Linked DNA regions of Homo sapiens: region 2 is linked to region 1. A link means that fine-mapping ties the variant in region 1 to the expression of a gene that starts in the linked region. Tissue or cell type: whole blood. Region 1 holds a variant in brackets; the other region holds the start of a gene. All regions are shown on one strand. Distances are from middle to middle.

Region 1 (2,900 bases):
TGAGGGAATTAAGGCAGAGTGGGTGAGAGATTTAGGAAGTAAAATGGGCTAGAGTTGGAGACTGGATATGAAGACTGTGACTAGGTAAGGAAGGGTCAAGGATATGCTCATATTTTTGGTTTGGAAATCTGGGTGTAAGCATAGGAGAAAGGGCAGGATTGAAGACCAAGATGATAATTTGTTTTTTTAGTATGAGACGGAGTCTCGCTCTCTCACCCAGGCTGGAGTGCAGTGACGCAATCTTGGCTCACTGCAACTTCTGCTACCTGGGCTCAAGCGATTCACCTGCCTCAGCCTCCTGGGTGGCTGGGACTACAGGCGCACGCCACCATGCCCAGCTAATTTTTGTATTTTTATTAGAGACGGGGTTTCACCGTGTTGGCCAGGATGGTCTCGATCTCCTGACCTTGTAATCCACCTGCCTCAGCCTCCCAAAGTGCTGGGATTACAGGTGTGAGCTACCACGCCCAGCCTAGTAAAGTTTTTTATTTTATGTTTTTATTTTTTCAAGGCAAGGTCTCACGGTCACCCAGGCTAGAGCACAGGTGCCATCATGGCTCACTGCAACCTCAATCTCTAGAGCTCAAGCAATCCTTCCACCTCATTCTCCCAGGTAGCTGGGACTGCAGGTGTGTGCCAACATGCCCAGCTAATGTATCTTATTTTAATTAATTAATTAATTTTATTATTATTATTATTTTTTTTTGAGAGGGAGTCTCACTCTCGCCCAGGCTGGAGTGCAGTGGCGTGATCCTGGCTCGCTGCAACTCTCACCTCCCGGGTTCAAGCAGTTCTCCTGCCTCAGCCTCCCGAGTAGCTGAGACTATAGGCAAGTACCACCATGCTCAGCTAATTTTTGTATTTTTAGTAGAGACAGGTTTCACCATATTGATCAGGCTGGTCTCAAACTCCTGACCTCGTGATCCACCTGCATTGGCCTCCCAAAGTACTGTGATTACAGGTGTGAGCCACAGCGCCCGGCCTATTTTATTTTATTTTTATTTTTTTATTTTGAGACAAGGTCTGGTTCTGTCACCCAGACTGGAATGCAGTGGTGCGATCTTGGCTCACTGCAACCTCCGCCTCCTGGGCTCAAGCCGTCCTCCCGCCTCAGGCTCCCAAGTAGCTGGAACTACAGGGGCATGCCACCACACTTGGTTAATTTTGGTATTTTTTTTTCTACAGACCAGGTTTTGCCATGTTACTGGTCTTGAACTCCTGGGCTCAAATGATCTGCCAGCCTTGGCTTCCCAAAGTGCTGGGATTACAGTTGTGAGCCACTACACCCGGCCCTGATTTTTTTTGTTTTTGCTTTTGTCTTTTTGAGATGGAGTTTTGCTCTTGTTGCCCAGGCTAGAGTGCAATGGCGGATTCTCGTCTCATTGCAACCTCTGCCTCCGGGTTCAAGTAGTTGAGATTACAGGCATGCGCCACCACACCTGGCTAATTTTTTTTTTTTTTTTGTATTTAGTAGAGATGGGGTTTCTTCATGTTGGTGTAACTCCTGACCTCAGGTGATCCACTTGCCTCGGCCTCCCAAGGTGCCGGGATTACAGGCGTGAGCCACCACACCCAGCCTAATTTTTTATTTTTACGTAGA[G/A]ACAGGATCTCCCTATGCTGCCCAGTCTGGAACTCCTGGGCTGAAGTGATCCTCCTACCGTGGCCTAGTAAGACCTTTTTGATACCTTGGTGTTTTTTTTTTTTTTTTTTCACTAGCTACTCTTTGTTAAATTCCTCCTATGCAATTCATATGGTTTGCTTTGGGAGATTATCACGGGGTTCTGATACCAAGATACCTGCCATAGTATCATCAGCAATTTATAGTAGTCTCAAAATGTGTAGTTATGATTTAAGTTTTGCCTGTTAGTCAAGAGTAGTTATCTTTTGCAGAAGCTTTTTGTTGTTGCTGTTTTTTGTTTGATTTCCTACAAGGAAAGACTAATGATAGACATTTGCCACTAAGGACAGCTCCTAAATGAGGTTTATCGTCTGTAAACCTTTTTTTTTTTTTTTTTTTTTTTTTTTTTTTTTTTAAGAGATGGTGTTTTTCTGTGTTGCCCAGGCTGGAGTGCAGTGGCTATTCACAGGTGCAATGATAGCACGCTATAGCCTCAAACTCCTGGGCTCAGCCTATCCTCCTACCTCAGCCTTCCGAGTAGCCAGGACTTCTATCCGTAAACTTTTAACTGGCCAATATGTGAAGGAAACCTGACTAGAAAGAGAAACAAACAAATGTGATGACATTGGGAGGCAGCAGATTTTGGGTTTGAAGTGAGAGTAGAAGTGCCTTAACTGAATTGAGGCTGCGAGAAAGGCTTGTGACTATCGTCTAATGGAACTAAGTGGGTTTGTTTATACTAGAGGCACAGGCACATATTTTTAATTTGTAGAATTCAAATCATACACTTGGCAAAACAGCAGGCGAATATATTAAAGAATGTGGTAGGCCTGCCATCTCAGTCATAATTGTAATTTGAAATTCCAGAGTATGTGTATTTAAAAATAGCATTTATTAAATTATTGTCTTTATATGACATTTAAATGTTCATTATCTAAAAGTTTTAATATACCTATAAATGAATTGTCATTTAGATTGTATTCAAAGAGGGACTGATTTTTGGGTGAGTGTCTTTTGGGGCTTTTTGTTTTGTAATAATGGAAAATAGCACAGTTACTTTTTTTTTTGCGACAGAGTCTCGCTCTCGTCACCCAGGCTGGAATGCAGTGGTGCCATCTCAGCTTACTGCAATCTCCATCTCCCGGGTTCAAGCTATTCTCTTGCCTCAGCCTTCTGAGTAGCTGGGACTACAGGCACCTGCCACCATTCCCGGCTAATTTTTATACTTTTAGTAGAGATGGGGTTTTGCCATGTTGGCCAGGCTAGTCTCGAACTCCTGACC
Region 2 (2,900 bases), 82 kb after region 1:
TGCACTGCTGGCTCTATGCCACCTGCAGACTCTCGCGGCCTCTCTCTCCCTCTCTCACGCAGCACCCCTCACAAAATCTGGGACTTGGCACTCTCGGTCCCCCACAGGGATCAGCATTTGGATGAGAAAATACCAGGCTCGAGCTGCTCTTAACCACGTTTATTGAGAGGGGCCGGGGGAAGGGGATGGACGGTCCTCCCCGCGGCGGGGTTTTCAGCCCTCGCGGGTGGGCAGCGTCTTGTCCTCAGGTGTAGATGCTCCAGTCTCGGCTCAGCCAAACACTGTCAGGGCCCCCTGGAAAGCAGAAGCCGAGCTTGAGTGCCCCCAGCCCTGCCACCAAGAACTCAGGCGGGGGCGCGGCAGCGGCCGGCTCTGTGGGGAGCGGGAGCGGGGCGGTTCCGCTGGCGTCTCCGGGGGACGCGCACCCGCGCGGGGCCATCTCCGCCTTCCCCGCCCCTGCAGCTCGGATGCGCCCCACCCAGTTCCCACCCGGAGACCCGGGCTTCTCCCAGGGACAGGGCTTGGAGGGGCAGGACGGGAAACAGCCCTGACGTAGGGCCGGGACACCTCTGGTGCAGTTTTGAGGCTGGCCGGGAAGGGATGCCCGCGCAGGAAGGGCACCCGGGGTGCCCACTTTACCAGCAGGGCCTTCAGGGCCTTCACGGCCCCCACGGCCTGGGGACCCAGCTCAGCCACACACTTCTGGGAGCCCTCTATGAGGTGGTTCACGGGGATGCCCAGGCTGCTCAGCAGGAGCTTCAGCGGGTTGAGGGTGCCGAGGGGGTTGGCCAGGGTCCCGGCCCCGGCCTCCGCCGCCGACTCCAGCGCAGCGACAGGCTGGGCCACAGGCTTGGCCGAGCCCACTAAGAAAGCAGCAGCTGCAAGCGAACAGGGAGGGGTCACCGCCTGCGCGCCGGGGTCCCCAGAAGGCAGGTCCAGGACGCGCCCCCGCGGGAGGCGCCCAGGAACCGTCGCGCCCTGCCCGGCTCCCCGACCGCCCCTCCCTCCTGCGCCGAGGCCTGCCAGGTGCGAGCCCCCGGGACACAGGCGGGTCTGGGGAGGCGGCCCCGCCAGGAGACGCTGCAGGGTCACCGGAGTGGCCTGAGGGTGGCGGAAGGACCGGTGAACTCTGTGCAGGGTCCGGGACAGGCCCCCAAGGGAGGGGACACTCGCGCTGCGCCTTGCAGGATGAGGAGCCGGTCTCCAGACGGGGGGCAGACGGGTGTCCCCAGGCCAGGGGCGGCCTCCATCCCGGCACGAGGCTGGAGACAGCCCTGAGAGGGGGAGGCCGCGGGCTGCAGGCGCGGGGCCCCGGGGTGGCGGAGCCCTCTGGGCGCCGGGCGAGGCTGGAAGGACCTGGGATCCACGATCGGCGCAGGCAGCGGCGGGGGCGCAGCGGGCGCCGAGGCCTCAGGCCCCACCGTGCGCGCCAGGAGCCCGGGGCGCTCACCGGAGCTGCAGGACAGGGCCACGCAGAGCCCCAGGAGGGCGGCGAGCTTCATGGCGCGGGGGCTCGGGGCGCGCGGGGAACCTGCGGCTGCCCGGGCAAGGCCACGAGGCTTCTTATACCCGGTCCTCGCCCCTCCAGCGCCGGCCTCGCCCGCGCTCCTGAGAAAGCCCTGCCCGCTCCGCTCACGGCCGTGCCCTGGCCAACTTCCTGCTGCGGCCGGCGGGCCCTGGGAAGCCCGTGCCCCCTTCCCTGCCCGGGCCTCGAGGACTTCCTCTTGGCAGGCGCTGGGGCCCTCTGAGAGCAGGCAGGCCCGGCCTTTGTCTCCGCGAGGCCCACCCCGGCCCGCACCTTCGCTTTGCGGTCTGACCCCACGCGCCCCCCTGCAGGGCTGGGCCCGGGTGAGGGGAGCTTCCCTCGCGCCAGGGCAGGGGCGGGGGCGGCGCAGTTCCTGGCTCCCTGGTCCCTGCCTCTGATCCCAGACCGTGGCAACGTCGGGCACTGGGGGTCCTCGTGGGCGCCTTCTGCGCCTGGGGAGGTGGAGGCGCCAGGGACGATCAGGCCTCACTCCCGGCCGCCTCCCCGGCCGGGCCACAGGCAGCCACAGTGCAAACAGAAGTGGGGCGTTTTTCTGTCTTCGAAACTAGCCTCGACGCCAGTGGATGGGCCTGGTTTGTTCCTGAGTTTCTCTAAATGTCCTCACTCGTCTGTCACCTGCAGAAGTATGACAGATGGAGAGCAAAGCACATTTTGAAAACTTTTGCAAATGATACATAAACTAATTTGCTTTTAGTCCTTCTTCTTTCCTCTATTTTTTGACCCCAGGCATTGAGCACTGAGTGACTCACGTTTTGCTGCGTGGCTGCTCTCAGCTAGGTTGGTGCAAAGTCTCTCTTTTCTTTTGTAAAGTGTAGCTGGCACGCGTGGGAAACAGGCTCCCGGGTGGGAGGACCTGACTCTTCAGGCAGTGTCCTGGAATTCCTTCCCTATGGCTGACAGCACGTCTTAGCCCTCAGCCACCCCGAGCTACTGCGGCCTCCTCCGCACCTGCAGACACTTGTGCCTTTGCCAACTGTTGTGGCCAGGCACACGCATTCACACTGTTTCTGTTCACTTACACTTTTCCTTGACTATTTTGTTTGGGGGATTTTTGCATTATAAATCTGGAGTTTGGTTGTGTTTTGTTGGTCATCATGGAAGTAATTTTAATGGGAAATACGTTTTCTTTTTTAAAAACAGTTTGAAGTTAATTACTTTTTTGGTGGTGGTAAAGACACTGTCTTGCCGTGTTGCCCAGGCTGGTCTCGAACTCCTGAGCTCAAGCAATCCTCCCACCTCAGACTCCCAAGTAGCTGGGACTAGAGGTGTGAGCCACCACACTCAGCGGATTTTGATTTTGTTTTTTGTTTGTTTGTTTTTTGAGACAGTCTCACTCTGTCGCCCAGGCTGGAGT

Which allele goes with the higher level. Alleles are on the strand shown, and positions count from the first base shown. SD is a standard deviation of normalised expression in the study named.
In carriers of allele A in region 1, the expression in whole blood of the gene that starts at base 1,539 in region 2 tends to be higher than with G alone (large effect, 1.6 SD a copy in TwinsUK).

What was found. PIP is the estimated chance that this variant, and not a neighbour inherited with it, causes the effect.
Region 2: it holds the start of SCGB3A1, and the variant in region 1 is the best candidate, but not a certain one, in a credible set for the expression of SCGB3A1 in whole blood (TwinsUK, PIP 0.54).

The regions. Positions count from the first base shown.
Region 1 is chr5:180,508,137-180,511,036 of GRCh38, forward strand. The region is part of intron 1 of CNOT6 (CCR4-NOT transcription complex subunit 6); the gene reads left to right. Among named protein-coding and RNA genes, the nearest start is that of CNOT6, 15 kb to the left of the region's middle. The variant G/A (reference allele first, on the strand shown) is at 1,601.
Region 2 is chr5:180,589,961-180,592,860 of GRCh38, forward strand. SCGB3A1 (secretoglobin family 3A member 1) reads right to left here and starts at 1,539. Exons shown (of 3, transcript NM_052863.3): 1 at 1,451-1,539; 2 at 640-878; 3 at 145-294. The coding sequence starts at 1,502. The coding sequence ends at 271. RefSeq lists enhancers at 1-400, 401-1,070, 1,071-1,740.